2 separate regions of the Homo sapiens genome follow, and region 2 is linked to region 1. The links come from fine-mapping of genetic effects on gene expression. A gene starts in region 1. The other region holds a variant in brackets. All regions are shown on one strand. Distances are from middle to middle. Region 1 holds the start of CACNB4 (calcium voltage-gated channel auxiliary subunit beta 4). Region 2 overlaps CACNB4 (calcium voltage-gated channel auxiliary subunit beta 4).

What was found. PIP is the estimated chance that this variant, and not a neighbour inherited with it, causes the effect.
Region 2: its variant is fine-mapped to the expression of CACNB4 in testis (GTEx, PIP above 0.99).

What each region holds. Positions count from the first base shown.
Region 1 is chr2:152,089,642-152,106,066 of GRCh38, reverse strand. CACNB4 (calcium voltage-gated channel auxiliary subunit beta 4) reads left to right here and starts at 7,023. Exons shown (of 14, transcript NM_000726.5): 1 at 7,023-7,118; 2 at 7,654-7,737. The coding sequence starts at 7,056. RefSeq lists a silencer at 6,825-7,114.
Region 2 is chr2:151,864,725-151,881,149 of GRCh38, reverse strand. It overlaps CACNB4 (calcium voltage-gated channel auxiliary subunit beta 4), which reads left to right. Exons shown (of 14, transcript NM_000726.5): 4 at 228-350; 5 at 4,594-4,724; 6 at 8,657-8,733; 7 at 10,289-10,308; 8 at 10,539-10,619; 9 at 11,915-11,973. Among named protein-coding and RNA genes, the nearest start is that of ARL5A, 45 kb to the right of the region's middle. RefSeq lists an enhancer at 5,530-6,203. The variant G/A (reference allele first, on the strand shown) is at 9,155.

The DNA.
Region 1 (16,425 bases):
GCACTTACCTTACTTTCTGACACTATTAAGATGCTCCAGACTCCTCTTGTATATTTCCTGCCCCAGTCCTAGAATTAGCCATTTGTCCAAGGTTGCCCTGATTTCTTCTATTAAAGGATAGTATTAGAAACCAACGTCTTGGTACTAGATGTGTTTGTTGCTACTAAGGGGTCATTGCTTCTAGGCCCTCAGCTGAAAGCAAGAGAATATATATATGTATGCTAACTCATGTATATACAGCTATCTATAAATATTTATTTTCTTTTCCTTTTTTTTGAGACGGAGTCTTGCTCTGTCGCCCAGGCTGGAGTGCCGTGGCGCAATCTCAGCTCACTGCAAGCTCCGCCTCCCAGGTTCACGCCGTTCTCCTACCTCAGCCTCCCCAGTAGCTGGGACTACAGGCTCCCGCCACCACGCCGGGCTCATTTTCTGTATTTTTAGTAGAGACGGAGTTTCACTGTGTTAGCCAGGATGGTCTCCATCTCCTGACCTTGTGATCCGCCCGCCTCGGCCTCCCAAAGTGCTGGGATTACAGGCTTGAGCCACCGCGCCGGGTCTTTTTTTTTTTTTTTTTTTTTTTGAGACGGAGTCCTACTCTGTCGCCGAGGCTTGAGTGCAGTGGCATGATTTTGACTCACTGCAACCTCTACCTCCTGGGTTCAAGTGATTCTTGTGCCTCAGCCTCCCGAATAGCTGTGATTACAGGCAAGAGCCACCACGCCCAGCTAATTTTTGTATTTTTAGTAGAGACATGGTTTCGCCATGTTGGCCAGACTGGTCTGCAACTGCTGACCTTAGGTGATCCACCCGCCTCAGCCTCCCAAAGTGCTAGGATTACAGGCATGAGCCACCGTGTCCGGCAAATATTTCTTTTTAAAAAGTTAATTTTTTTTTTTTTTTTTTTTTTTTTTGAGACAGGGTCTCACTCTTTTGCCCAGGCTGGAGTGCAGTGGCACAATCACAGCTCACTGCAGCCTCAACCTCCCGGGCTCTAGTGATCTCTCACCTCAGCCTCCCAATTTGCTGGGACTACAGGCACACACCACCATGCCCTGGTAATTTAGAAAAAAGTTTTTTGTAGGGATAGGTCTCACTATGTTGCCCAGTCTGGCCTTGAATTACTCGGCTTAATTGAGCCTCCTGCCTCAGCCTCCCAAAGTGCTGGGATTACAGGCGTGACCCTTGGCATGGGGCCCTATAAATATTTCTGTATATAACCATCTGTATCTTTTAAGTTACCCTCGAGTTCATGCAGATTCTCTGACTCCAGTCCATTACCACATGGATCATTTTAGTCTCCTCCCCTTGCTTCTATGTAACCTTCCACTCCAACAGTGGGAAACCTGGCCCCCATCATTTGCCATCTATGTAATGAATTGTTCAGTTCCAGTGTATACATATAGTGATTTCAGAATAGTTAACCCACACTCCTCAGAAACAATGTATCAACCGTAGTACAATGCTTATGCACAGTTCCTTTTAGTCTTACAGGCGCCACTCATTTCCAGGGTTACTTAGGCCAGCAGCCATTTTCTCCACATTCTTCAGTGACATTGTTTAATATATTTGTAATACAGTTATATTCTTTTGTCACATTCTGCATTCCATCCTGATCTCTCAACATCTTCAATGATTTTCTTTTTAATTCACCCACATTAAGGCTTACTTTATGCTGTGAAGTTCTATAGTTTTGACAGATCCATGTTAGGTATCCATCATTACAGTATCATACAGAACAGTTTCATCACCCTTAAAAACCCCCCATGCTCCACCTATTCAACCTGCCGTCTTCATCACCCCCTCCAGAACCACTGATCTGTTTATTGTCTTTATAGCTTTGCCTTTTCTAGAATCCCAAATAGTATATAGACTCAGACTGGCTTTTTTCATTTACCAATATGCATTTAAGGTTTATCCCTTTTTTTTATGACTTGATAGCTGAATAGTATTTTATCATTTTATCATATGATTAGACCATGCTTTGTTTATTCATTTACCCATTAATGGACACCTTGGTTGCTTCCAGTGTTGGGTTATTGTGAATAAACTTATTAAACATTTGCATGGTCTTTGTGTGGATGCAAATTTTCAGATCAGTTGCATAAATACTTAGGTTCTCGATTGCTGGATTGTATAAGATGGTTTAGCTTGTTAAGAAACTGCTAAGAAACTGCTCAGGTATGTTCCTAAGTGGCTGTACCATTTAGCATTACCATCAGCAATGAATGAGAGTTCTTATTGCTCCTTATCCTTACTAGCCATTGCTATTATCATTTTTATGTTTAGTCATCCTTATAGGTGTATAGTGGCATTGCATTGTTGTTTTAATCTGCATTTCCCCTAAAGTAAATGATGTTGAACATCTTGTCATGTGCCTATTTGCTATCTATGTGTCTTCTTTGGTAAAGTATCCATTAAAATATTTTGTTCATTTAAATACATTTTTTTTTTCAAATTTTAGAGATGGGTCTCCTGTGTCTCAGGCTGGAGTAGAGTAGTGAGATGATGGCTCCCAGCAGCCTCAAACTCCTGGGCTCAAGGGATCCTCCCACCTCAGCCTCTCAAATAGCTAGGATTACAGGCGCATGCCACCCACTGCGCATGGCTAATTTTTTTTTTTTTTTGTAGAGATGTAGTCCTGCTTTGTTGCTCAGAATGGTCTTCATCTCCCGGCTTCTTGGGCAATTCTCTCCTCAGCCTCCCAAAGTGCTGGGGTTACAGGCATGAGCCACAACCCCCTGCTACTTTTGTCCATTTTTTATTTGAATTGTTTATTATAGTTGAATTTTTTTTTTTTTTTTTTTTGAGACGGAGTCTCGCTCTGTCACCCAGGCAGCAGTGCAGTGACGTGATCTTGGCTCACTGCAAGCTTTGCCTTCCAGCTTCATGCCATTCTCCTGCCTCAGCCTCCCGAGTAGCTGGGACCACAGGCGCCTGCCACCATGCCCGGCTAATTTTTTGTATTTTCAGTAGAGACAGGGTTTCACCATGTTAGCCAGGATGGTTTCAATCTCCTGACCTTGTGATCCACCCGCCTCGGCCTCCCAAAGTGCTGGGATTACAAGCGTGAGCCACCGAGCCTGGCCTATTATAGTTGAGTTTTAAGAGTTATTTGTATATTTTGTTTACAAGTTCTTTGTCTTCTTATTATCTTAACAGAGTTTTTCACAGAGCAGAAATTTTTAATTTTAATTAAACCCAGAATATCAATTTTTATTTTCTTGCATCATGCTTTTGGTGGTGGTGTAAAATCTCAACACCAAACTCAGACTCATGGAGATTTTGTCTTCTGTTTTCCCCTAGAGGTTTCGTAGTTTTGCATTTACACTTAGGTCTGTAATCCATTTTGAGTTAATTTTTCTGTAAGATCTGAAGATTAAAAAAATAATAACTTTATTGACATATAATTCACATACCATACAATTCACCCACTCAAAGTATACAATTAGGCAGGGTGCAGTGGCTCACACCTGTAATCCCAGCACTTTGGGTGGCCAAGGTGGGAGGATGGCTTGAGTCCAGGAGTTCAAGACCAGCCTGGACAACACAAGGAGACTACAATTCTATAAAAAATAAAAAATTAGCTAGGCATGGTAGTGCCCACCTGTGGTCTCAGCTACTCAGAAGACTGAGGTATTGCTTGAGCCGGAGATGGAGTCTCACTGTGGTGCCCAGGCTGGAGTACAGTGACGTGTCACAGCTCACTGCAGCCTCGACCTCCTGGGCTTAAGCAATCCTCCCACCTCAGCTTCTTGGTTAGCTGGGACCACAGACACGCACCACCATGCCTGTCTAACATTTTTTTCTTTTCCTACTCATGCTTTTGGTGTCATGTCTAAGAATTTATTGCCAAATCTAAGGTCATGAAGATTTACCCTTATCTTCTAATAGTTTTATATTTTTAACTCTTTTAAGTCTTTGATTAATTTTGAGTTAATTTTTGTATATGATATAAGGCAGCAATCCCCAGCCTTTTTGGCACTAGGGATTGGTTTCATGGAAGATCAATTTTCTATGGGACGGGGATGGAGGATGGTTTGGGGATGATTCAAGCACATTACATTTATTGTGCACTTTATTTCTATTATTATTACATACTCACCATAATGTAGAATCAGTGGGAGACTTGAGCTTGTTTTCCTGTAACTAGATGGTCTCATCTGGGGGTGAGGGGAGATAGTGACAGATAATCAGGCATTAGATTCTCATAAGAAGCCCACAACCTAGATCCCGTGCATGTGCAGTTCACAATAGAGTTTGCACTCCTATGAGAATGTAATGCCACCCCTGATCTGACAAGAGGCGGAGCTCAGGCCATAATGCTCACTTGCCCCACCGCTCACTCCCTGCTGTGTGGCCCAGTTCCTAACAGGCCACAGACTGGTACTAGTCTGTGGCCTGGGGGTTGGGGATCCTTGATGTAAGGTCAGGGTTCAACATCATTTTTTCCACTCTGGTGTCAGAGGTAGGGACAATGATGCACCTCTCTCTGAGTGACATCACCATGTTAGATGCTGAATGTTTCTGGCAGAAGCACTCAAAGCAGTCCCACGTTTCCTGACTTCTTTCTCGATGAGCCAGAAGCAAAGGTGATCAAGGCCCAAGTACACTCAGTGCTGCTGTGGCCAAGGTACAGCCTCCAGGTACAACTGGGCAGAAGAAGGGAGCCCCCACCTCTGCCATACTTGCTTAGAACTTAGTCTCAACAACAGGTAGCTGCGGGGAGGATGACAAATGCTGATGTTTTGTCCCTCCTAGGAAGCTGACCCTCCAACTGGGAGCTGAAGGGTGAGGGAGCCCTGTGTTCTTGGCTGCACCAGTATAGCGTGGAGCCCTCTCTGAGTTGGAAGCATGAAAAGAGTGAGTAGGTCTTGGTTCAAATACCTCAAGCTCACTTTTCTTACTGGGTTTCAGTAGGTTTTCTTGAATAAATGTTCCTTCATTTGTTGTGCACCTTTAGGACCATTTTTAGAAATTTAAATGGTTGCTTATATATAAAACATATAATTTTCACCAGTTTTGCTTTGAGCTGGGTGTACAGGGCTTCTCATGTTGTTATGCCTCTGTGGGTTCTGTTTCAATAACTTAAAGTCAGTGAGAATGTGGACAGTGGAAAACCACACAATTCAAAGTCCAGTGCTCACATAGTAATTTAATATGCACACACGTATCAACTATGAAAATGGCTCAGAACTAAATACGGATTGGGTTGACAGTAACTAAAGTAGGGAGTCCTGCATGGTTAGACCTCCATTCCCCATAAATTCATGGAGTATCTACTATATGGAAGGTATAGGAATAGAAGATAAACCGCTAAAAATTCTGAAAATTAGGAGATTTTCACAAAAACAGAACTAACAAACTAATAAGCTAAGGCAGCCTATTCTAAGTGCCCAGAGAATACATGCTCCAGTTTTTCAGAAGCACAAGAATTATGTGGGACTGGAGTAGTCAGATAGGATTTCTGTGGAGGAAGCGTGAGCTGAGTCCCATTTAGAAGAAAGGTAGGATTCAGCCGGGTGTGTAGGTTGTTGGGAGGGCATATTCCAAGGAGGCATTCCAAAGCAGAAGAGCTCAAATGTGATTGTATTTGGAATACTTGGGTATTGATGACTAGACCTGCCTGCTTGCTGGAAGGTTTGTATAGAGAGATCAAGATGGAGAAATGAGATGGAGAGTGATCAGAAATGCAGGAGAGGCTGAGTTGTTGGACCATGGAGTTTGGACTTTATCTTAGAGAAGAGTGACTTGGGCAAGATATTTTAGGAAAATGGTTTTGCCTGTAGTGTGTAGATGGAATGAAATCTCTGCGTGTGTATGTGTGCATGTGCATACGTGCACATGCACCAGGAAGCCTGGAGGCAAGGACATTAGTTATAAGATTGTTACAGAGGTTTGGATTAAGTGAAGGGATTAGGAATGGAAAGGAAGTGTCTGGTGGATGGTAAGATATAACCAGGACCTCAATAAAGCCAAGCAATTATTAAAACAAGCATGGTAGTTGTGTCCATAAACATAAAGTCCTAGAATGCAAGCTGATTTAGCGATTTGAGATAGTAAGTATATTTTAATTTAAACGGAGTCTCTTTATTTTTGAATTTGCATATACTTTTCTTCCCTCTTCTTATTCCTCTGTCAATACCTCGCACTTATTCTTCCTTTCCGCAATCCCTCTCTTTTAATTTGATCACAAATTAATCTCTTGTATGTATTTACAGGAGGAAACCAATGGCAAACGTTGTGTATGGTTGCAAGGATGAGTTTCTCCCCCTTGAAAATATCCATTCGCATAGAAATGGGAGGCACAGTGACCAACTCTTGCTTCTTAGCAGGTCTAACATGACCTTCAAAACTCCGTAGGACATACTGGTCTTTGGCGGGGCAGCATCTCCCGTCAGACTCAGGCTGGCTGGGTTTCTCACAGCTGCCTGGATGTGTGTGACTCGCAGCTCTAAGGACAGAATTGCCAAAGCAATACAAAAACACGGACGAAAAGCAAGCCACAAAACCCCATGCCTTACACATTAGGCTGATGAGTGAAGTCGCGGAAGGTGGCTCTGCTCTTGCCCTTTTAAAATTCCAGTGCAGCAAACACACACACACACACCCGCTCGGTTCTTCCCATTCCCGCCACACTGCACCAGCTTCCGTCCCCAAGTCCTGATTCATGAACCGTGCCACCTTTGTCTCATTTTAAACTGTGCAGACTATTTTAATCTTGCCACCCCCATCCCAGATTTCCCCCTCCCTTCATCCTCTGGAAGCTCTGATGTAAAGCGCTTGCTAGGTGGGAGAGCGCTTCTCCCAATCCGCTCGGGTAGGCGAGTTTCCGAGAAGCCCCCTCCCCGGGACCCCGCCGCGAGCGCGGGGGAAGCGCCTCGGTCCCTTTAAGGTGCCGCGCTCTCCGAAGTGCGGGCAGGGAGCCTGGGCGCCGGCGCGGGTCCTGGAGCCGGGTGGGGAAGTCCTGCGCCCTCCCCCTCCGTCCGCAGCCCAGCCTCGGGGGCCAGCCCCCTCCGCCCACCGCACACGGGCTGGCCATGCGGCGGCTCTGAACGATGTCCTCCTCCTCCTACGCCAAGAACGGGACCGCGGACGGGCCGCACTCCCCCACCTCGCAGGTACCGCCCCCTCCTCCCCCTTCTCCTCTTCCTCCTCTTCCTTCCTCACACCTCCTCCGCCGCCCTAGCGCGCCCCGCCTTCGTGCCGGGCGTGCGGGGCCCCAGTCCCGGGAGTCGGCGGCCCCGCTCCCCCCACCCCTCCTCCACGTCCCTTTCTCCTCCCGCTCCTCCTCTTTCTCCTCCTTCTCTTCCTCCTCCTCCTCACCCTCCTTCGGGTCTCTGCGCTCCCGCTCCGGAGCCCGCAGCCTCCCCCAGCGGATGCCGGGGACTCGGACCCCGCACCCTGAGAGTCTTTGTTAATGGATGTGGTGGGTGCTTGCGGGCTGCTCTTCTCGAGCATCTTTTCAGCAGTCGAGGCTTGCAGTGGGTGGGTGGGGGTGGGGGCTGTATTTGGGAGTCGCGGAGGAGACTTGGGTGCGGGCTCTAGGGGACCCCAGGGAGCGGGTCCGGAGGCGGACTCCAGCCGGGGGTGGTCGCCCCGCTCTGCGCTGCGGTCCTCACCGGCTTCTCTCTGGCCCCCGTGTGTCGAGTCCAGGTGGCCCGAGGCACCACAACCCGGAGGAGCAGGTTGAAAAGATCCGATGGCAGCACCACTTCGACCAGCTTCATCCTCAGACAGGTATGAGAAGGAGGCGGGAGACCAGGATGGGGAGGAGGCCGAGCGCGCGGCGCGGGGGTCCTGGAGCCGGCCGTGGCCCACACGTGCGGGAGCTGCGGGTCAAGCCCGCGCGCGTCTCTTCCCGGCCTCGGCCGGTGCTCGGGCTCAGTCCCTCTCCCTCTAGCCTGGGCTCTTGACGTCTTCGCGTCCCGGCGTCTCCGCACCGCCCCGGGAAGTTAGTTTGTGCATGTGTGTGGACAGTTCGGTGGGGACCTGGCTTAAGTCAGGGACGTTGAATTTAAGAGCTGGAAATATGTCTGGTTGTATCTTTGGTGCGTGGAGAAATGTCTTTAATTCGTATAACTCGACCTAGAGTAACCAGACCCCTCGGGGCCGGGGACCTGGTTTGATTCGAGTTGAGATTTAGTGGTTTCTTCTGTTTTGTCCTAATTTGAATACTCTTATCTGTCTGGATCTTGGGAGAGATCGTCAAGCTCCGGTCAAAAGAAAGACACTGAGCAGAAAGTTTACTCTCACTTTAGGACCGCTTCTTGGATTCGCTTAGTTAGGGAAAGACAGCTGTATCTGGTTAAATAGGAATTAACGAAGGCCAGCACTCAGCTCCGGGTCTGGGTGCGCCTTCACTTCGTGTTTGTTTTCTTAGTGCTTGCTTTCTCCTGCGTGGTTCTAGTGCGAATTGTCTGTGCTCGGGATCTCCGGATCGCTGGTAATGCTCAATGCTTAGGTGCCTTTCACCTTGGCACAGGAAATTGGTCCTCAGTTTTCCAACTGTCCATGTGCTGTTAATGAAACCACCCCTGGCTGCTGGGTGCTAGAGAGATCATGCAATGAGTCACCTTGATCTTTCTTTGGAACAGAAATTGTCGGGGTGTGTCCTAGGTTTCGGGTGACCTAGGAAGACATTGGTCATCGCACCAAGAGGCTTTTATCCCAGGTCTTCCTGTGGGCTGCTGGAGTGACCTTGAGAAGTTCTTTTCCCTCTAGGTCACTCAGTATTGTGTAATGTGTTTTCTAACCTATGATGGCAGCTCTGGTGTTTCTTTAGTGATTATCATCAATTTAAACATATCAACGAGGAATTGATATCAAAATTGAACTCAGACCTCTCCTAAAAGGGTCTATAAAGCATATTTAGATGATATTTATTATGCAGAATTTCACTTTCTGCAGAAGCGGAAATTTTGACTACCATTTAATTCAGCGAGCACTAAGCATGTACATTATGGAAATAAATGCATTTTGGATTCCGAATTCATTCTAAAAGTGCATTCTATCCCCTTTGCAGTATTTAGATTATGTATTTGATAAGGCAAACATATTGTTTATCTTAAAAACATTTTTCTGTTATGCAACTGTTTGAGGTCTTGCTGGTGTTTATTTTGTAGGTGCCTATTTTTAGTGGTGTTTCATTGTTGCAAATTCTTGGAAATACTAATTACACAGCAGTTCTTTCCATAAGCTGTTTGACTAAAACTTTTGAGTTCATCTACATAACTGCACTAATGCTTTATTCTTCCTTCCAAGCACAAACAAAATAATATTCTAATATTCTTACTCTTTTCTCAATTTATGCCCGTAACTGATTGAGATGATGTATATATAAGTTCTTGTAAAGCGTGCTGCTATGTGCTGGCTTAAGAAATGTTAAAAGTATTGCATGCTAAATAATTTTGGGAATAATTTAAAGCAAAGTAGATTTTTTTAAATAAATATATTTCATCTATGAAATGGGAATTCATTGGTTTGATTAAATGGTCTAATTTAAATTCAGGAGTTAATTGTAATTGTATTATATACACAATCTTATTTTTCGGCACAAAAATAGTACTTAATTTTTTTCTTTTTTCAGACGGAGTCTTGCTCTGTCGCCCAGGCTGGGGTGCAGTGACGCAGTCTCTGCTTACTGCAAGCTCTGCCTCCTGGGTTCACGCCATTCTCCTGCCTCAGCCTCCCGAGTAGCTGAGACTACAGGCACCCGCCATCACGCCTGGCTAACTTTTTTGTATTTTTAGTGGAGACAGGGTTTCACCGTGTTAGCCAGGATGGTCTTTATCTCCTGACCTCGTGATCTGCCCACCTCATCCTCCCAAAGTGCTGGGATTACAGGCGTGAGCCACCATGCCCGGGCTACTTAATTTTTATGAGCACTTTACAACTCACTGAGTATACTACACATGATCTCATTCAAATGACATCATACAGACTTCTGTATTGGCTACAATAAAAATAACTGAGGGATTTACATTTCTTTGATGAGATAAGGAAAATGATTACAAATGCAGTTTAACAATAACTTTCGGATAAAATTGAAATCACCCCAATGCCAAAAAATATTTTTTATGAAAGCATAACAGCTGCTTACGTTAACAGAGCCTTGGGCTGGTCACAGTGGCTCACGCCTGTAATCCCAGCACTTTGGGAGGCTGAGGTGGGCGGATCACTTGAGGTCAGGAGTTTCAAACCAGCCTGGTAGCATGGTGAAACCCCGACTGTACTAAAAATACAAAGAAATTTGCCAAGCGTGGTGGTGTGTGCTTGTAATCCCAGCTACTCGGGAGGCTGAGGCAGGAGAATTTTTTGAACCTAGGCGGTGGAGGTTGCAGTGAGCCAGTATTGCTCCACAGCATTCCAGCCGGGCGACAGAGCAGGACTCCATCAAACAAACAAACAAACAAAAACAGAGTCTCATTATTTGTAGAATGACCAGTGATTTATTGATATTTGAATTCTTGATACATTGGAGTGATGAAATTTCTTGGTGCTGTTTCACAGTCTTTGTGATGCCTTTGAAGAAGATAGTGGAATACCAAAAAATATATATATTGCTAGTTTCTTTATCATATTATTTACAAAAATATGGAGAAAAGCTTTCATTAAAAAAAAAATCGATGTGTTACATTGGATGGGGAAGACTGGGCTGTTGGTGAAGCAGAGAAGGCAGTTGGCAACTCACCCAATAAGACAATATTTGTTCTTTGAGCTTGTTAAAAAGTTTCAGTGTTTCTGAGACTATATATGCACATATGTGTGCATGCACACACATGAACATTTGAATTGGCTGGAAAACAAGCAGACTGAGAAAGAGAGCCTGCTTCCACTCTGAGGACTGCTCATGAAGCCCCTCAGGAATCTTTGACCTTGTTTCTGGTCTACAAGATTTCTGGCTTCCACCATTTAGGAGGGATGGAGGTTTTGGAATGAATCCAGGGAGCAAATAAATGGCTTCTTTGAGGAAAGGTGAGAAGATGAAGTACTTTGCCGCTGAAAGGAAAGAAAGCTAGGAGTGACCCAGAAATGATCTTCAAAGTACACACAAAGGCTTTCTTTGGAAATGTGATGAAGTGTTCTCACTCTTCATTGGGGATGAAACTCAAGAACTGGCCCAAATTAGAAAGGAATGATGTTTTACAGCAAGACCTTCCTAAGAGTGTTGCCATCATTGGAGTGGCTTTCCAAATGAGGCCATAGAATTTTCTTTCAGGAGAGCCCTTCTTACAGGCTATTTATGAATGGATTATCTAGTCATATTTTAAAGTTTTAGGAAACACTTAAGTATTTGCTATGTGCCTAGCACTATGTTAGATATTGTAGGGGAGGAATGAAAAGATGGATGAGACACAGCCCCTGTACTCAAAGATTTTTATAATCTAGCAATGGAGACAGAGATGTCTACAAACAGTACGGTGACATGTAACAAGGAACGAGAGGGCGGGCTCAATGACCATGTACCCCGAGTATCTATTATATATCCATAAGTATATCTACCCATGGGTGTCACTACACATACAGTTTATACGGCTGAGTACTCCAAGTTAGTCCTCTTCCCACTGGGGTTTGAAGAGAAAATCTGATCAGAGTGGGAATAGTTTGTTGACTTTTCCTTGTTAAGTCTGCTCTTATGAGGCCAGCAAAGTCATACCTGGCCTGGCCCCTGCCTGCTTCCAGCCTCATCTTGAGCCATGATCTCTTAGCTCTGGACACAGAGTTTGAACACACTGTCTTCCCTCTTGCCACTGGTCCTTTGCATATGCTGAGCCCTCTGTGTGGCAGGTTGTTGTCCTTCCTTCTGCCTAGTTAACTTTTAATCTTCCCTGAGATCTGGGGGTTTAGTCTTCACTTCCTCTTCTAACCTTCCTGATAAAGTCAGTTCCCCAACAAGGGGCTCCCAGAGGGCCTTGTGCCAGTTTTCAGTAGCACCACCGCTTTTATTTAACATGTACTTAGATTTCTCTGTTACATTCTGTCTCCCCATCCGTATGAGTTCCACAAGGACAGGGACATGTCTGCATTTGATCTTTGTGTCCTCAGCATCTAGCATAGTATATGTTCAATAAACACACACTTGAATGAATGAAGCAGTGGATGGATGGAGAACTAACTTGATATATTTTAGGCATGAGGTTCTGCTCCAACATTAAATGCTTTGTTTAGTGGGGAGAAATTGCCTCCTAACCTCCCCCAAAACTCTGTGGCTTGAAACAACAACAATTTTTTATTTCTGTGTACTAACCAGACAGTTCTGCATTGTATGATGTTATATGGGCACTGGGATGGCTGGAAGGTCCAGAGTGGCCTCACACATGTGGTTGGCAGTTGGTGCTGGCTGCTGGCTGAGAACTCAACTAGAGCTTTTGGCAGCGGCTCAGTTTTTCTCCACCTGGGCCTCTCAACATGGTTGCTTGAGCTCCCGGATAATATGGTGGCTAGGTTCCAAGAAGTGAAGGCTGAAGCCACAGCTCTCCTAAGACCCAGTTTTGAAAGCTACACTGTATCACTTGTCTTGCAAACTCAAGTCAAAACAGGTCCAAGAGCCTGCTCAGTTGCAACAAAAGAGAAAACAGACTATCTTTTGATGGGGTGCAACAAGGTCACGTTATAAAAGAGCATATGGGTAAAAATACACACACACACACACACACACACACACACCAAAAAACAGCAAGTCAAATTCAGTGCCAATAGTATAAACAGGAATGTAAAGATTATTCAATTTATATAACAAATTAAAGAAAAATATATGTTGATTTCAGTAGGTGCCAAAAAAGTATTTGATAAATTTTGTAAGTTAAGAATAGAGCATATCTAGAGGCACGTGATTTTAAAAAAAGAAGAGAAGGCAGCTCCCTAAATCTAATAAAAATTATCTACTAAAATCCACAGCAAACATCACACTGAGCAGAGAAACTAGAAACAATATATGTATGCAGCAGTCAGTAAATGAGCAAATAATGTACATTGGGGCCCTCATCCATATTTTTGCATTCCCTGGTTTCAGTTACCTGCGGTCAACTGAGGTCTGAATGTAGGTGAGTACAGTACAGTAGCTATTTTGAGAATGAGAAAGAGACTACATTTCATATAACTTTTATTATGACATATTGTTAACATTGTTCTGTTTTATTATTAGTTGTTATTAATCTCTTACTGTGCCTAATTTACAAATTAGACTTCATCTTAGGTATATATGTATAGGAAAAAACATTATATATATATATGTATATATATGTAAATGTATATATGGTTTGTTACTATCTGTAGTTCCAGGCATCCACTGGGGTCTTGGAATGTATCCCCCACGGTTAAGGGTGGACTACTATATATTATACTACAGAGTACTATTCAGCCATTAAAGAAAAAAATAAAGCCACCCTGCGTGTAATGATATGGAAATGCATTTAAGACATTCATTTGAAATGCATTCAAGTGAAAAAAGTAAGTTACAGAATAATGTATAATAATATTTCATTAAAAAAAAAGAGCATATGGAATGGAAGATATGGTTGCAGCCATTGTTGGAACCATCTACCTTGGAACAAGGAACCTCGTATTTTTTAAGGTATGCTAATCAGATGATCGTTACAATAATTCAATGAACCACACTGTATTTAGAGATCTAAAACATTCAGATTTTTAGGTTGATACTAGAATAAAACAAGTTGGCAAACAAATTCTTGGGGTTATAATTTGAGCACCAGTTATAGATATGTTTCTCTGATGAAATGCAAATTCATCAACAGAAGGTATATGCTTTGCGCATAGCTCTAAGAATAATCATATGCCTACAGGCATGTATATATGCAAAATTTATCCATAAACTTAGAATCACAGAATTTTAGAACAGGAAGAGATTGCAGAAAGAAAATACTTCAGTCTCTTTTTTCAGATGAATAAAACATAGGCCCAAGGACATAAAGGTCATACCAATAGATAATGGTAGAACAGACACAAGGGATCCTGGCTCAGACTCTACTGTTTTTTTCACCACAATCCACTTTATCCCTGAATAAACAAGCCAAACACACAAACTCACACAGGTGTGGATACATGCAAGGACATATGGAGCTTATTCCTCTCAGATCCTGGAAACGTTCTGAATCTGCGTGGTTGCTGTGAAGAACCATAGCATCAGTTGAAGAATTTAGAGACTGTGGTTTCTTCCCAATTCTATCATGGATGGAATTTTTGTTTGCTTGGTTAGCTTCTTGTAGGATTATTCCTTCCACCCTCCAGTCTTCTACCAGTTCCTCCCATTGGCTGAGCCTCTCTGGAAGCCCACTGACCTGGGATTCTGGGAAACAAGCTGCAGGCAGTGGCCCTCTGAGATGGAAAGTAGAGCAGCGGAGTGGGAGGAGTGGATCTGAGGGAAACAGCCAAGGAGGGGCACAACCAGTTACGTTTATGTTTATTTTTGTTTGAGAAGGAGTCTCACTCTTGCCCAGGCTGGAGTGCAGTGGTACAATCTCGGCTCACTGCAAGCTCTGCCTCCTGGGTTCTTGGGAGGCTGGTCCTGCCTCAGCCTCCCAAGTAGCTGGGACTACAGGTGCATGCCACCGCATCTGGCTAATTTTTGTATTTTTAGTAGAGACCAGGTTTCACCATGTTGGCTAAGCTGGGGCACAACCATTTTTATATTTTAGCTGCATGGTAGACAGTATTGAATCATTTTCATCTGCAAAGTTGGAAGTTTTTACTTGCTCTGTAAGTAGACCTTCCTTGCTAAATGGTGTAATCCAGTTACAATGAACTTTAAAAAGTTCGCGCTTATTTCCTTTGTGAGTTTTTTGTGCAATGAATCTTCTCTTGCTCTGATAGAGCAAGAAAGAACTCTGTCGCTCTTGGCAAACTGTGCTTCTTCTTGTTTTGGGGCTTAAATAAATTGAACTGAGCTTATGAAGAAAGAAATCTAATTACTGGGTAGCTAACCCGTTAACCAGTCATTTTTACTTATGTCTGAGTCTCTGTTCCTGATGGATAGAATTGCCTAAATTTCACTTTTTTTTTTTTTTGAGATGGAGTCACACTCTGTTGCTCAGGCTGGAGTGCAGTGGCCCAATCTCAGCTCACTGAAATCTCTCCCTCCCAGGTTCAAGCAATTCTCCTGCGTCAGCCTCCCGAGTATCTGGGATAACGGGACTGCCAACATGCCTGGCTAACTTTTCTATTTTTAGTAGAGATTGGGCTTCACCATGTTGGCCAGGCTGGTCTTGAATGCCTGACTTCAAGTGATCCACCTGCCTCAGCCACCCAAAGTGCTAGGATTACAGGTGTGAGCCATCATGCCCAACCCTAAATTTCATTTCTGTAGAATAAATATTTATCCTTTAGTTTTAGAATGGTACAATTTTATTGAAACTTAGGTAAGTTCTGATTCAAGTTTTTATCTTTCTTTTTTTCTTTTTTTTTTTTGAGATGGAGTTTTGCTGTTGTTGCCCAGGCTGGAGTGCAGTGGCGCGATCTTGGCTCACTGCAACCTCTGCCTCCCAGGTTCAAGCAATTCTCCTGCCTCAGCCTCCCAAGTAGCTGGGATTACAGGCATGTGTCACCACGCCTGGCTAATTTTGTATTTTTAGACAAGACCATGTTGGTCAGGCTGGTCTCGAACTCCTGAGCTCAGGTGATCCGCCCGCCTCGGCCTCCCAAAGTGCTGGGATTATAGGCATGAGCCACTGCGCCCATCTTCAAGTTTTAATTTTTCTAGAAAATTATAGGAAGCTGTGTGGAAATGTAAGCTGAAAATGACTTTGGCTTTGGCCCTCTCCCCTTAATTGCTCCACCTGCTGCCCCAGACAGGGTCAACCCTGGATATTAAGGAAGCAGAGACTGCCCTTTCAAACAAGGTTTAAACAAAAGGCAATGCTATTTAATGGCCTTCCTTTGGCCACTCAAATCTGGGTCTGACCCATCTTTTCTGGGTGTGGTCTTGGCATTGTCCATACTCATCTTCCTCAAAGCTTGGCCCATTTTTGGTCTCATTTCTGAAGCTCTGACTCAGAATAAAGCATAAATCCTAACCAGGGTGAACAGCTTGCAACTCACTCACATTCATGAAGACTCTACAGACATGTGGAGAGTGGGGCATGCAGGTCCCATTCTGCTCAGTGACCCTCTGTGTTTGGCCTCTGCTTTCTGTCTTTCTTTTTTTCTTTTTGAGACAGGGTCGTGTTCCCTGCAGCCTCAACCTCCTGTGCTCACGGGATCCTCCCACCTCAGCCTACAAGTAGCTGGGACTACAGGTGTGCACTACCAAGCCTGGCTTTTTTTTTTCTTTTTTTTTACTTTTAGTAGAAATGGGGTCTCACCATATTGCCCAGGCTGGTCTCAAACTGCTGGGCTCAAGCAGTCCTTTCACCTCAGCCTCCCAAAGTGTTGGGATTACAGGCATGAGCCACTGCGCTTGGCTTTGCATGC
Region 2 (16,425 bases), 220 kb after region 1:
GAATATTGGAAAGTATTGCAGGAAAGGAAAAATGGTTGGGCTGATAGGACCAATCATTTTCAGAGTCATCTCTGCAGGTTTCTTGATATTGCTTGAGAATGTAAAACTCATTTGAGATCCCTCTTTGGAAAGTTATTTCTCACTACCTGGTACTATCAGAGTTTCAATATGAAAAATGCTCCTCTCTCCTCCCTTCCTCATTCCTTATTCCATGGTTCTGTCCCTAGTCCAAACCTGTAGCATTTGCCGTGAAGACAAATGTGAGCTACTGCGGCGCCCTGGACGAGGATGTGCCTGTTCCAAGCACAGCTATCTCCTTTGATGCTAAAGACTTTCTACATATTAAAGAGGTAAATGTAGAACATACTGCATCCCTTCACCTGCCAAAAAGCTGAAGCCAGGAATCAGCTCTGAGCCAAACTAGCCAGAGAGGAGACCCAAGGAGCTGCCAGTGCAGTACATGATTTAATTTGCTGAGCCTCCCAAATCTAGTCATTCTCATTAAGATTGAGAAGTCTGAGATCATTGCTTGCATTATCACACACTGACAACATTAAATCACAGTCAACCTTAAAATTATAGCATAGATTTCTGACAGACCTCTATGGTCCTCTGGGCACCTTTAAATCCCCTTCTGTGACTGCAGAGCCATAAATATATGGATCCAACTTTGGAAAATGTAAGTTTGGTGTCATGGCACCTACCCAGAAGGGACTGTTTACAGGGGATGTTGTAATTATAGACATGTAGACTATAGTGCTGTGCACCTTGACTATGGAACCAACACTAGAGTGTATAATCATTCAAAGAAAGATTTACAGCTAAGAAAAGGGCAGAGGGCTCTGGGAAACAGAAAGGCAAAAGGGTAAAGTGTTTGAGTAGCCAAGAAGGGTGGGATCCAAGACCCCTAGTGGAGGGACAGACCTTTGATAGAAAGAAGAATGCTAATTCATTGTGACATGCAGGGAAAAGATGAGTGCAGGCACAGACACTTCAGGGCCTTGGGAATAGGAAACTGAGGACCCATCAACTTCAACCATGGCCTCTACTTTCTTGATGGTATATGAGGTGAGGATGTCTACATTTGTCTAGAAGACAAGAACTCTTGACCTGAAACATGTGCCCTGGCATCTGAATGGTTAAGTTGATTATGTCTCACCATTTCCATCAAAAATGCCCAAGCCATATTCATTAGTTGCTAATACCCACTGTGTCCAAGGAGAAGCACCACTTGAAAAGGTAAGAGATGTTCTTACATGTGACATGCACACTCACTCACACCAACATTCCAACCTTGTATTTGATTGCTTTCCTGCATTGTATCAAGGTCTCAATTTGTCCTGGCTGCTGTTTGAGCTATGTGCTTGTTGATCAGTGATTTTCTCTTCAGTCTGGCAGTTTGATGTGACATTGAGCTGGTAATCTTATGTGGACCAGAGCCTCTTGTTTTCATGTCTTGAAATTATCAGATAAGAAAACATCTTTGATATAGAAAGTGCTAATCATTTTAGGGAAATCCAAATAGAGAAGGGTTGGAACAACACCGAGGTGACCTCTGTAGAGAGCTGGCACAAGTTCCCAGAACATCAACACAAATGAATACATTTCTATAATCAAGTTATAGCCTTCCCTCTCATCCATCACTTAGAAGGCCATCTATTATGCACCATGTTAAGTAGTTTCTCAATAATAAAAAAAAAAAAGCTTAAATGCAGAGAAAAGCTACAACTATGCTTGTCACATAAGCCAAATGATGATCAAATTAAGCTCTTGATTTTACATAGTGACTTTCTCCCTAGTAACTCAAAAAATTCATTCCTCCTGAGTCAGATTCTCACTGTGCTTTCGCTGTTTCCTAGAACTAAGTTAAAACATTTTGGGAAGTTGAATTAACCATTTCAGCAAGCCCTTTAAAGTCATTTGGGTGCCATTTAACAAATGAGTGTTCCAGTGGGCTATGCCACTTCATTTCAGGAAGTAACTTAAGCCCTAGGAAACTATGACTCATGGTCTGTTTTGTCCTCAACACAGTAAAATTTAAATTCCAGACCTATGCACCCAAGATTCTAAAAGGGTCCCTTTGCCCTTTGTTAATTCCAAAATAAACAGACCTATTATTTTAGGCCTGTTATACTAAAAGACAGGAAAGTGGGGAAAAACAACTAAGACCTAGATTGTTCAAGGTTTTATATCAGGTCAATTCACATTTTTTTCTTTTCTTTTCTTTTTTATTTTTTTGGAGACAGGTTCTCGCTCTGTTTTCCAGGCTGGAGTGCAGTGATGCAATCACAGCTCACTGCTGTCTTGAACTCCTGGGCTCAAGTGATCCTCCCACCTCAGCCTCAGCCTCCCAAGTAGCTAGGACTACAGGTGCACTACTACACCCAGCTAATTGTGTAGTCTAGTATAGTGCACTACACTAGCTAATTGTGTAGTACACTAGGTAATTAGTAGTACACTACTATACTAGCTAATTGTGTAGTACACTACACTAATTGTATAGCTAGCTAATGGTGTAGTATTGTGTAGTACACTAGGACTACAGGTGCACTACTATACCCAGCTAACTGTGTGTGTGTGTGTGTGTGTGTGTGTGTGTAGACAGGGTCTTGCTATGTTACCCTGGCTGATTTCAAACTCCTGGCCTCAACTGATCCTCTTACCTCAGACTCCAAAAGTGCTGGGATTACAGGAATGTGCCACCATGGCCAGCCCTCAATTTACATTTATTTCAATGCAATCTCATACTTTATGCCACTCATATAGTATGCATGGAGAAGCTGTGTGCATAACAAAGGCCAAATTCTTACCAGAACATATTTCTCATGAGTGTGAAGCTGTTACTCAGAATAATTTAAAGTTTACCCAGAACTTCATGGTGTGATTATTCAATGAAACCTTCCATTCCTCCTTCATAATGTATCAGAATCATATATATATATATACACACACAGACATATATATAAATTTCGCTTTTCTATGAGCTCAGCAAAATATACTACATATCATTGTTACATTTTGAAAAAAGTATATGTTTATAAATATATATATTTTGGGTCAAAATAGGAGAGAATTATCTTGCCCAACACTGATAAAAACAGTAAAGGAAGTTTTTAGAATCATCTCCAGAGAGTTTAAACAATAGAGCTGGTATCTATTTTGTAGAAGTGACCTAGCTGAAACCTTTCCTTGAGGCAGGGAGCTTGAACTAAATTGCTTTCTGCTGTATAATTCAGCAAATGTATAATTAGAAATGCAATTTTGCCAATCCACCAAATAAGCCCACATTGACAGACTCTCACCCCACACTGGTTGAAGCCTTCTCATAGACTTGAGTTTGCTTGTCATGGAACTTAACTTAAATGGAAATTCTGGAGTTCCTCTTGGGCTTCAGAGCATTTGGAAGTTATTTGCAAAATTTCACATACAAATATATAATACGCTCAGACTTTGTAAGTGTAGGCATCTTTTTCTTCAAGTAGTAAGATGGACCTTAATTTGCAAATCTATATTTGAAAGATCATGACTCTTCCCCAGTGAGATTAGACCACAGATAGTATCGTGGAATTTTTAACTGAAAGCTTTTGACAAATTATGGACTATTAAATGTATTTCATCTCAGACATATCTGTCTTGCCTTCCAGAGTTCCAGTTACATTGGTGCATATTTATCCTTATAAAATATGTTCTTTAAGAATTGGTTAGAGCTTCTTGACAAAGACCAAAAGAATCCAAAGGTTAGGACCAGACATTAGTCCAGGGATTCACAAACTATAGCCCACAGGTCCAGTCTGACCCACTCTCTTTTTTGTAAAGAAAAGTTTTATTGAAACACAGCCATGCTCACTTGTTGATGTTTGTCTGTGGCTGCTTTCACACAAGGACAGCAGATTCAACTAATTGTAACAGAGACCACGTGGTCTGCAAAGCCTGAAATATTTACTACTTGGACCTTTACAGAAAAAGTTTGCAGAACCCTGCTTTAGTCTATGCATCTACCTCAGATATATATATATATAGTATGTATATATAGATATATATGTATATATAGATATCTATGTGTATATATAGATATCTATGTGTATATATAGCTATCTATGTGTATATATAGATCTATATATGCACACATACATATACAATATACTTTATATTAATATATAGTATAGGTATATATACACATATATACATACACAATATAGTTTATATAAATATAGTATATATAGATATATACATATATACATATACAATATAGTTTATATAAAATGTATAGTATAATATAGTATAGATATATAGATATATACACATATACAATATAGTTTATATAAAATGTATAGTATAATATAGTTTATATAAAATATAGTATATAGTATAGTATATAAAATATAGTATACACACATATACATATAAAATATAGTCTATAGTATAGTATATAAAATATAGTATACACACATATACATATAAAATATAGTTTATATAAAATATAGCATATCATATCATATAAATAGCATTTTATTCTTCTTGTCCCCTAAGATTAATAAACAACGTGAAGATAAGTGAATTACTATTGATAGCAATTTTATTTCTGAATTCCAGAAATATAACAATGATTGGTGGATAGGAAGGCTGGTGAAAGAGGGCTGTGAAATTGGCTTCATTCCAAGTCCACTCAGATTGGAGAACATACGGATCCAGCAAGAACAAAAAAGAGGACGTTTTCACGGAGGGTACGTTCCCATCTTTTCTATGCACTTTTTTTTGGTCAGAAAATTGGGTGATATTTTCAAGGGTGTATACTTTCAAAGTAGAAGATACTTTTCTGTGTGCAAAGTGTTTCTGAAACTGACACAGAAGAGTTTCAGATAGTTCTCTATCCTCTGTGCATGCTGAAGCCTAACACCACTGGAGACCATATGAATTCCATGGCAGAGACTGTTTTCTGTGGCCTCAGCAAGCCCTCCTTGGAACCCAAGCTTTCCTCTAGGAGAGTCACTTCGGGCATTCTTTCTCCACACAGTGAGTGGGAGCTGACCTGAACCAGCAGTATGGCTCCTCTTGGTTCGCTTACAGAGACTCTCCCTTAAGTGGGCACAAAATGTGATGGTATCGCCCCTACTGGGAAGTGAGGAGCCCCTCTGCCCGGCCAGCCGCCCCGTCCGGGAGGGAGGTGGGGGAGTCAGCCCCCCGCCCGGCCAGCCGCCCCGTCCGGGAGGTGAGGGGTGCCTCTGCCCGGCCGCCCCTACTGGGAAGTGAGGAGCCCCTCTGCCCGGCCAGCCGCCCCGTCCGGGAGGGAGATGGGGGGGTCAGCCCCCCGCCAGGCGAGACGCCCCGTCCGGGAGGGAGGTGGGGGGTCAGCCCCCTGCCCGGCCAGCCGCCCCGTCCGGGAGGTGAGGGGTGCCTCTGCCCGGCCGCCCCTACTGGGAAGTGAGGAGCCCCTCTGCCCGGCCAGCCGCCCGTCCGGGAGGGAGGTGGGGGGGTCAGCCCCCCACCCGGCCAGCCGCCCCGTCCGGGAGGGAGGTGGAGGGGTCAGCCCCCTGCCTGGCGAGCCGCCCCGTCCGGGAGGTGAGGGGCGCCTCTGCCCGGCCGCCCCTACTGGGAAGTGAGGAGCCCCTCTGCCCGGCCACCACCCCGTCTGGGAGGTGTACCCAACAGCTCATTGAGAATGGGCCATGATGACGATGGCGGTTTTGTGGAATAGAAAAGGGGGAAAGGTGGGGAAAAGATTGAGAAATCGGATGGTTGCTGTGTCTGTGTAGAAAGAAGTAGACATGGGAGACTTTTCATTTTGTTCTGTACTAAGAAAAATTCTTCTGCCTTGGGATCCTGTTGATCTATGACCTTACCCCCAACCCTGTGCTCTCTGAAACATGTGCTGTGTCCACTCAGGGTTAAATGGATTAAGGGCGGTGCAAGATGTGCTTTGTTAAACAGATGCTTGAAGGCAGCATGCTCGTTAAGAGTCATCACCACTCCCTAATCTCAAGTACCCAGGGACACACACACTCTGCCTAGGAAAACCAGAGACCTTTGTTCACTTGTTTATCTGCTGACCTTCCCTCCACTATTGTCCTGTGACCCTGCCAAATCCCCCTCTGCGAGAAACACCCAAGAATGATCAATAAAAAAAAAAAATGTGATGGTATGTGCAGGTCCCGGCACTGATAGTACCTTCTCCACCCCAGGCTTTTTGTGGCATCTCTTGTCTCCTGGTATTTGGGTGAAGACAGCTTCAGGTGAATCAACCTCTAGTGAGCTACTGAAGTAGGCATGTAGATCTCAGAGTGCAGGTATTTAAAGGTCCCAGGAACACAAGCACAGCTTGACAGAAGAGAAACCAAATCATCCTGAGTCTGCATGTATTGTGTCGCAGCCTGCACTGAAGCATTGATTTGATATGTTACACTTTTTTGAAAGTTCTAAAATAGAAGCAGCTCTTTCTCTTGACCCTCAACCTCTGTTTTCTGTTGAATGCTTTTCTATTTCAAAAAACTCCTGTGTTCTTTAGGCGCCTACCTTTGTCATAATAAGAACCGCACCAACTGTAATAGGAGATCACAAAAGTATAGTTACCCCACTTTTAATTACCAATCTTTTTTAGCATATAACTTGCCAATACTATTATTAATATTAATCCCTCTTGTCCCTTGTATTAGTCTGTTCTCATACTTCTTCTTTTTTTTTTTTTTTCTTAGAGTCTCGCTCTGTCGCCCAGGCTGGAGTGCAGTGGCGCAATTTTGGCTCACTGCAACCTCTGCCTCCTAGGTTCAAGCGATTCTCCTGACTCAACCTCCTGAGTAGCTGGGGTTACAGGCACGCACCATCGTGCCTGGCTAATTTTTGTATTTTTGGTAGAGGTGGGGTTTCATCATATTGGTCAGGCTGGTCTCGAACTCTTGACCTCGTGATTTGCCCGCCTCGGACTCCCAAAGTGTTGGGATTACAGGTGTGAGCCACTGTGCCCGGCCTGTTCTCACACTTCTATAAAATTGGAGAACTTATGAGGAAAAGAGCTTTAATTGTCATGGTTCTGTAGACTGTAAAGGAAGCATGGCAGCATCTGCTTCTGGGGAGGTCTCAGGGAGATTTTACTGGTAGCAGAAGGCCAAGCGGGAGCAGGTGTCTTACATGCCTGGAGCAGGAGGAAGAGACGGGGAGGTGCCACACACTTTTAAACAATCAGATCTCACTATAACTCACTCATTGTCACAGGAACAGCACAAGGAGATGGTGCCAAACCATTCATGAGGGACTGCCCCCGTGGTCCAGTCACCTCTCACCAGTCCCCACCTCCATCACTGGGGATTACATCTCAACATGAGATTTGCGGGGGACACAGATCCAAACCATATTATCCCTTTTTTTCTAAAATTTTGTCTTCCATGCCCCTTTTTAGACACATGGGGAGCATGTGTTCCTGTCTTGGGGTCTTTGCATTTGCTGTTTTTTCTTACTGGAACCTTTTTCTTCACACTTACACCCGGCCACTCCATCTGCTTTATATCTTTGTTAGGTATCACCCTTTCAGTGACCCCTTTCCTGCCAATTGTATTTAAAATTGTACCCACTCCCCTTCCCTGTACTTCCCATCCCTTCCCTGACTTAGTTTTCTCTGTTGCACTTATTACTCTCAGAAATATTATATATTTACCTATCTATCTTGTTTGGTATAAGCTGAGCATCCATAATCTGAAAAGCTGAAATCCAGAATGTTCCAAAATTTGAAACTTTTTGAGGACTGACATGATGCTCAAAGGAGATGCTCATTAGAGCATTTTCGATTTCAGACATTTGGATTAGGGATGTTCAACTAAGTATATAGTGCAAATTTCCGAAATCTGAAAACAGTGGAAATCCAAAACATTTCTGCTCCCAGGCATTTTGGATAAGGGATATTCAACCTGTACTGATATGTCCTACTAGTATATGACTCAATAAGGGAAAGGATTTTGTCTCCCCAATGCCGCTGTCTTATTTCTACTTTCCAAAACAGGGATGTACAATCCATATTTGTTGAATAAAATAACTGAATTATTATCATTTTCAAAGTTTTATTGTTATTATTATTTCTTAATTGTTACAGTCATGGGCCATATAACTTTTTTGTCAAAGACAAAAAGTAGGAAGGTGGCAGCTCCCGACGGCATTTGTGGGCTTCAGGGAAGCTTCCAGAGCACACCTGAGGAGACCAGAGTTGAGGATCTTCTATTTAAATAAATAATATTTTTCGTGACCAATTCCCTACGATCAGTTCTTAATTCTGATGCCCACATAATCATCTTGTAAGAAGAAATGGTTTCTCCAGGTCTAACTGCTTGTTTTGAGCTGTGTTTGACATCTGACTGGCACATTGGTGCCTGGTGTTAGGTTAACAAGCAGTTCATAAGACCATTCCCGTCAGTGATGGTTTTGTCTGATTTCCGCACTGAGTAACTAGAAGAGATGCTTTTGCAGAGTATTCCAGGTCTCGGCTAGTTCTCCACATTCTCTTAGAAATGAGGTCAAAGAAAACATTTGGATAGATTCTTGAAATTCTTTATAGCAGAATTTGGTGTGTTTTGAATTATTTAATAGGATGAGGGCCAAAGAAAGCTTTGTACTCTCAAGTTCTATTTTCAAAGAATCTGGGGAGTGAGTCTTTAGTTCCTTTTCTATATCCTAGGAAATCAAGTGGAAATTCTTCTTCAAGTCTTGGAGAAATGGTATCTGGGACATTCCGAGCAACTCCCACATCAACAGGTGAGGGTTGTAGTTAAACTCTTTTTCATACACTGTATTCCTTTTAAAAATATTTGAACACACATGCAAGTAGTTTTGCTAATTTGGAAACAATTTGAAGGCTTAATTTAAAGATTCTCTAATTAATATTTCATTTCTCATTTGTTTTCTATGGTAATTTGATTTCATTTAAAATGGTATTAAAAATTCATGTCATTAGAATATAATTTTGAAAAATCTTATTTACCCCTCAGTGTTAATAACTGTCCATTGTGTAAATTGATATTCAAAAAATTCATTATTTTACCTAAGGAACGGACAGAGTTTAAGATGGTGAAGGCCAATAAAAAAAGGAAAAAAATGATGCAGACTCTCAAGAAAATGCTGTTTTCAGTCTCCATGTGGAATTTCAGGATGTATTAGTACAGCCCGAGCTGGAAGG[G/A]TTGAAGCAGAGAGTAAGGCAGGGCCCAAAGGAGGGAGGGCCTCGTTTACATTTGGACAGCAGACAGCCAAGCCCTGGAATTAATGGTAATGAAGAGATATTGGTGGCCTAATAGGGAATTGTGGTACATTTGGAAACGATGGAGTTATTCATGTAGGAATTTTTCTTCTACCACATTCCCTGATTCCTATCGGCTAATTTCATTCTGGCCTAGAACTGCTGTTGCATTAGGGCATCCAGTGTCCTAGTTACCAATTCCAATTGTATTACCAATTTGGAATGGCAAGTCCAAGGCCCTATTCTGGCCTACCAAAACTGGAGGCAACTGGATTGGTTCTGGAGTGGTTCTAAGTGTCTGGGTCCTTGTTCATGTGAAGCCCTCTTATCTACAGGACACTGAACCAAACCAGGTTTCTGAGTTGTACCCAACTAGACTGGAGCTGCTTGGATGTCCACAGAATCGCTTTAAATCAGTTATTGAGTATATTTTGCTTCGTTCCCATTTGTTGGACATTCAGGACATTGAACACTTTAGCTATTACAAACAGGAAAGAACAGGAATAACTCATTATAAATTTATCTGAGGAATAACTGGTTATAAATGTATTTGAAATTTAGAAGCAAGATAGTAGGAAAAATGTGCCAATATTCTAGAAAATGGGCAAAAATGCCCAAGGGACTGCAGAATTATGAGTTAACAAATATAAAAATAACTATTGATTGAGGTGATAGTCATTTTTGCCCAAGTGGTTATTCTGTTTCCTTTTATGAAATTGCATTTGTCTACCTTGTTCCCAGCAACACTGTGCTGTGTCCAGCACGGGAACAACCCATGGTGATTGGCTGGCCCGGAACTTCCAGTGTTGCTCTCAACTCCTGTACCCAATTCCCACCCAGTGAGAAATCAGGATATAAGGTCATTTGTACCAGGGAGGAAGCTGTCTGTTTTTCATACATCTTCAAAATTGACGTGTCCAGAATGAAATCATAAGGCAGGTTCTCCAAAGTGGGCGATAGGAAGGTGGTGAAGATAATTACAGGGACAAATGGGTACATTCTTCCATCTTTTAAACTCATGTACTGTCATTTGCAGAGTTTACATATTTTGATATGGCTCTCGTTATTGTCTTTTAGCAAAACAGAAGCAAAAAGTGGTAAGTTGTGTTTCCTTTTTAAATCTACTGTTAAGGTTCCTATATATACATGCCTGCAATGCTCCATTTCAGTGACCCAAGTGGCTATAAAATAAGGGAAGAGCCTCCTCGGTGGGGACTTTGATAATCATTTGTCGTTCAACCTGAGAATTATGAAATTATGAATGTTGTGGCTGTGGAGAGGCATGCTCAACCTCACCTTGTCACGCGTGTCGAATCATCTTTTTCAGACGGAGCACATTCCTCCTTACGATGTTGTACCGTCAATGCGTCCGGTGGTGTTAGTGGGGCCGTCACTGAAAGGTTACGAGGTACAAATATCATCTGTTACTCTTCAGTTCTTGATCGAGCACCCAGGAGACAGTCATGTTGACGCTTGCTCCTCAAGGGTCTGTTTCCACGTGGGTCCTGATGGAAGCCAGTGCTCAGCATGGGAAGGCAGGGGGTACCGTGTGGGGCTCATGAGGCCCTCTGCCCTTTCTTTCCTCTCTTGCACACTTCTCATCTTTTATGTATTACATTGTTTAGAAATACCTCCCTCAAAATATTCACAATGGGAAGATCTGGTCAAAGATTTGCTGTACATTAAATGCAAAGAAAAGGACTTTATCTGTCTTGACCATTCTCATTATTATTAGAAGTAATAGAGAATGAACAGCACAAGAGGACAAACAATCAATCTTCCAGCAAACCCAAACCTTTAAAGCCCAAACAGAGTTCACCCTGCTGGGTTTTTAAGATGATGGCATATGCCACCAAATCCTTCTCTGCTTATTTATTTTAAAGGGCACATGTTTTAAAAGACCACTAAAAACATTAGTGAACTTTGGAGATTAAACAAAACCATGTGACAAGGAAAAGAGTAGAGACTTCGTTTCAGATGTTTGTTTTGACTTTGTGCTAGCTTGGATTAAAAAATAGGTAGAACGTGACATTAAACTCTGAAGGTGAGCAGCCTCCAGGGCACCATTCCCATCGAGCTAGGACAATGTGTGGCACATAGTAGGCACTCAGTACACATTTGCTGAATGAATTAATGAATCGCTTTCAGGCAGATCTAAGAATCCTGGCTCTATCCCCCTCTCTTTCTCTCTTGTCTTTCTCAGAGTTGGAAATGTCAGAGGGATGAGCAGGAGAGTGGTCTACAAAAATCCAGCCATGGGCATGGAGAATTTCCGCCAACATACACAAACTAGCAGGAAGGCTGAGTCCAGTGCTGGCCTCAGTTCTCTAGCTGCTCCTCACTGGAGGCAGGCACAACTCAGGCGTGCCAAGGATACCCGGCACCTGTGTACAAAGCCAGCCTGTTGTCTCCTGGCAGCAGTTCTATCCCCTAACGAGGGAAGAGGGAAGAGGGAAGAGGGTCTGGTGAACACTGCTGGTTTATTCCTCAACACCCTGGAGGAGAACCAAGGGGGGTGGAAATTAGCAATTGCACATGGTTAAGCATGAAAAACACCTTCCATGGTAACCTCCCCCTAGGAGACGAATGGCTACAATAAGGTCTTGGCTCATAGTACCCTTCCCTCCCTCCTCTCTCCCTTTTGACTTCTCTCTCTCTCTCTGCATGTGTTTGCCTCATTCTTTTTTTCTCACCTCTGCAAAGGTAACAGACATGATGCAGAAAGCCCTCTTTGATTTCCTGAAGCACAGGTTTGATGGGAGGTGAGAAATATAGATGTTTTTGTATTTTTATTTTCCTTTAACCAAACTTGTGTGATAAATTGAATTGTAGATCTATGTTTCCAGAGATTTCAGAAGTTCTCTAGTTAAAAGTTAACTCAGTATTCTTGGGAAGAATATAATAAAAGAACTCTGAAAATATGAAGTATAACATTGAGTCCCCAGTGAAGAAAGGACCATGAGAAGAAAAATAAGCCATTTGTTTTATTTAAATGTATATATCTTTATTTTCTCAGTTATTAATAATTTCATACCAAAATGTTTTTTATGAAAAAATATTAATTAAAATATATAATATTTCTCATGAGTATAGTGGCTTGCTGGTCAAACTAGGCAGTATTTGGGAATTGTGTATGTGTGTGTGTGTGTGTGTGTGTGTGTGTGTGTCATATGAAAGCATAAATGTCAAGTACTGAATTTCCTCAAAAGAAGAGAGTGAGAATTATTTTAATCATAAGCCTCCCAAAGTGATCATTTTGTAGGGAATAGTACTTATTTGGATATTTATTATAGTTGTGGGTTGTTTTTATTAGAAATGTCCTTGTTATTTTATTGATCTTTTTTTAATGTATTTTACTATGATCCATCAACAATATGGCTCAGGCATTAGCCATTAAATAATTTTATCATTTAAGTTTTGTGAAAAATTCTAAAGAAAGTTTCTCTGTTTTGCAGAGAAATGGTAAAAAGCCTGTATTGACTCAATTCTAAATATTAAGCTCTTTCACAGTGCTGAATGCAGTCCATGTAAAAATAACCACATGAAAAAACCTGAGATTTATCAGAAATGTAGGAAATTTAAATGGGGTGCATCAAAAAGTATGGGCAAATGCATCCAGTTTATTACTGTAGGATTGAAGAAAAACATCACATTCTTTATTTTTGAAGGCAGTAATTAAGCCATTCACTTTCTCTTTGCTAAATTATGAGAATCCACTAAATGCACAAAATAATTTTAAAATGTAAAAAAACTTCAGATAGATTTTAATAAATTGGTATATTAAGAATAAAAACAAGCATGGTATTGCTTTAAATATAAATTGTATGCATTTGTTAAAATAAAAGCTTTCTGGATAATTGGGTAAAATATTCATTAGTTTCTGGAACAATATAGAAAGTTAGTAAACAGATTTTAGTTTAAGAAATAAGAATGCTTCTAGGTACATTAGTATATAGGTCAGGCTGCCTTAATAAATAGACCCCAAAATGTGTAGTGATTCAAACACAATGGAAGCTTATTATTGCTCACTTAACAGTCTGAAGCAGGTGTTCCTTGGCTGGGAGGGAGGATAGAGTTGGGGGAGGGGAGAATTGGGCAGAAAGTTTGTTCCCTCTGTCATTTGGGGCCCTTAGCCCAGGTACGATGTCTCTAGTCAGCTTGCCCGGCCTGGAGGTAGCGCAACTGACATTTCACTGGTTAGAACTTGGTTATGTGGTCATACTTAATTGCAGCGGAGGCACTCTTGCAGTCCAGGAGGAAGAGGAGATAGAATTTGTTGAATCAATAATAGCCTTCGTCACATTCATCTACTGGACAAAGGCTTAATAAGAAAGATGTATTTGTTCCATTTCACTCTCTTTAAAAAAGAAATAGGCAGATAATGAAGTAGCTTCAAAGAAAATAAGTTAAAAGCCCTGAATCCTAGAGCATTGGAGTTGGAAGGATACATAAAATGTCTTTTAGACTCATCATTTCTCCAATAACCACAATCAGATAGACAACCTGCTTCTGTTTGAAACTTTTGGTTATTGGGATTACACTTTCTAAAAAAGCATTGCAAAAAAATAGCTGAACTCTGACTTTGTAACTTAATAGGGCTGGTCTTGGTCTTGCTGTCTGATGCTCTGGCCTTAACCCTAACCCTCATGCAGGTCCCTGTGGATTGAAGGCAGCCAGCATGCCTTGGTCGCACGTGCATAGTTCCTTCAGATATGTATGGAGTCACATGGTTTCAACCTGTGGAGCTGTTACCTAAGGCAGTTCTGAGCAGTGCCGAATCCACTGGCCCCATAACAGCCCTATCTGAACAAATCCCATCCCATAAGACAGTGTTAGATTATTTTGGTCTATAACATACTTATACGCAACAGTGCTGTTAAAGGTTTGCCCTCAAGAATGAAGAATCTGATGTTCTTCCTCAATCCTGAGGCCCAGAAAAAGGGAATTTATTTAATTGTAACAGCAGAGATTTGTCTCGAATCAAGTAGAATTGTCGCATCCATTACTGTACACATACTACTGAAGTTGGTTTTAATAGAAATTGAATGCAAATTTCAATCTCAAGTATTCATGGGGTCTGATGACATGGCAGAGGGTCTGGAGGAAGAGCCCAGCAGTAGCAAAAGTAATAGCTGAAGAGAGAGACTTAGCCCTGGAGAAATCTGATATATTTCTCCAGCAGGAGAAAGATAGGTAGATATTAAAGGGGTGAGGGGTGAGAGAATGGACTTGATTTCAAATATTAAGAGGCCAGGCAGCAGAATGAACAATAAGGAGTTCCTTGGTTGAGTGTATGTGGAGACTTTGATAAGAAAGAAATTCGCTGGTAGCGTCACACTGACTCTGACATGTCTTCTTCGTGGGGAATATCGTTAGGTTTTGAGCTATAACATCATGCTGCATTATGTTTTACCAATTGATACAAGGAGAGAAAAAAACAAATAGTCTTTAATTGAAACCAGCCAAGAGAACAATGACAAGGAAGGCTTTAGCACAGTGACACGGCATAAACAATATGTTCTAATGGAAACCTACTCTGTGTTTCATGGGCTATGAATGCAGTACGTTAGACAAAATAGGAGAAAGTCCTATTATTTTTCAGAAAGTACAAAGAAGGGATCTGTTGGCTACGAGGCTTTCTTCTTTAATCTGCTTTTCAGATCTTAGTAGAAAATAATTCAACAAATTGGATGAAAGTCCAACAGTTTGACTATTGCAGAATCATAAACTTGGGATTTTTTTGATACCTTAGAAATTATTTGAGTCAGTTTAGAGCTACTTATTATACAATTTTATTGCTGTAGCTGCTATTGTGGGGCCTAACTGTAATACATGTAAGAAAAACAGAATACTAGGCTGGGCGCAGTGGCTCATGCCTATAATCCCAGCACTTTGGGAGGCCCAGGTGGGCAGATCACCTGAGGTCGGGAGTTCGAGACCAGCCTGACCAACATGGAGAAACCTCATCTCTAATAAAAATACAAAATTAGCCAGGCGTGGTGGCGCGTGCCTGTAATTCCAGCCACTCGGGAGGCTGAGGCAGGAAAATCACTTGAACCTGGGAGGCAGAGGTTGCGGTGAGCCAAGATCATGCCATTGCACTCCAGCCTGGGCAATAGGAGCAAAACTCTGTCTCAATAAAAAAAAAAAAAAAGAAAGAAAGAAAGAAAAAGAAAAACACAATACTAAACAGTTCCTGAGCGCCCTCTGTATTTTTGAATATCTACATGAAGCAATGATTCCTGTGCTGACGACGACACAGTGGATACACAATGGGCATGGAGCTTCTCTCTTCATTTCACACCACAAATATTAATTGGGGATTACCCATTTGGATGAGGTTTGTTCAGCTGGCTGAATCTACCATTCACAGGCTGAACAGCCAGCAGTCAAACCAGTTGCAGTTTGTTGACCTATGCCAATCATTTCAAATCCCCCAAAAAGTTGTTACTTTAGGCTTTTGACAACTGGATCAGATCAACTCTGTGACATTTATTGGACAATTTGTAACTGATAATGATCATGGCCAAAAATCTTAGATGAACATCGTGTAACCTACACAGATAGGATCTCAAGCTAAAGGATGCTTTTAGCCTAAGAACACATAAAGGGAAAAAAAGGGCTTGAGAAAGAATTTGAAAGAAAAGAAGCTAAACATACAACTTAGGGAGACTCAAAGCGATAGTATTTATTAATAAAAAGAAATGGGAACAATTGGTGCTGTCACAAGGCAACCAAGCCATATAAGAATGAAGATAATTTCTAATTGCAGTCAACAAATGGAAAAAGAACAGCAGCAACTTCCGTTTCGTAATCAATTTCATTCTCCTATGCATTCTTCCTACTGTTTTCTATTCAAATGCAGACTCATAAACAGCCACTCAAACACCAGTAATAATTAATTGAACACTTGAGTGTCAAACTTGAATATTTAAATTAGTAGGTTTTGAGTACAGTGTATCTGACCTGATTCTCTCACCCACATTTCACGGACTCTGGGAATGAGAGGGGTCATGGTAGACTGCCCACTTTTGAGAGTAGGACATAAGGAAACTATCTCCTTCGAGTCTTTAAATCTCCAATAATTGTTTGCCTTGTGTACATTATATATGTGTTTATTAACAGAGGACACTATGAATAATTATTTAAGAATGCGCTTTTATATATAACCTTATTTGCTCTTAATGGCAACCCCATGAGATAGTTATGGCAAA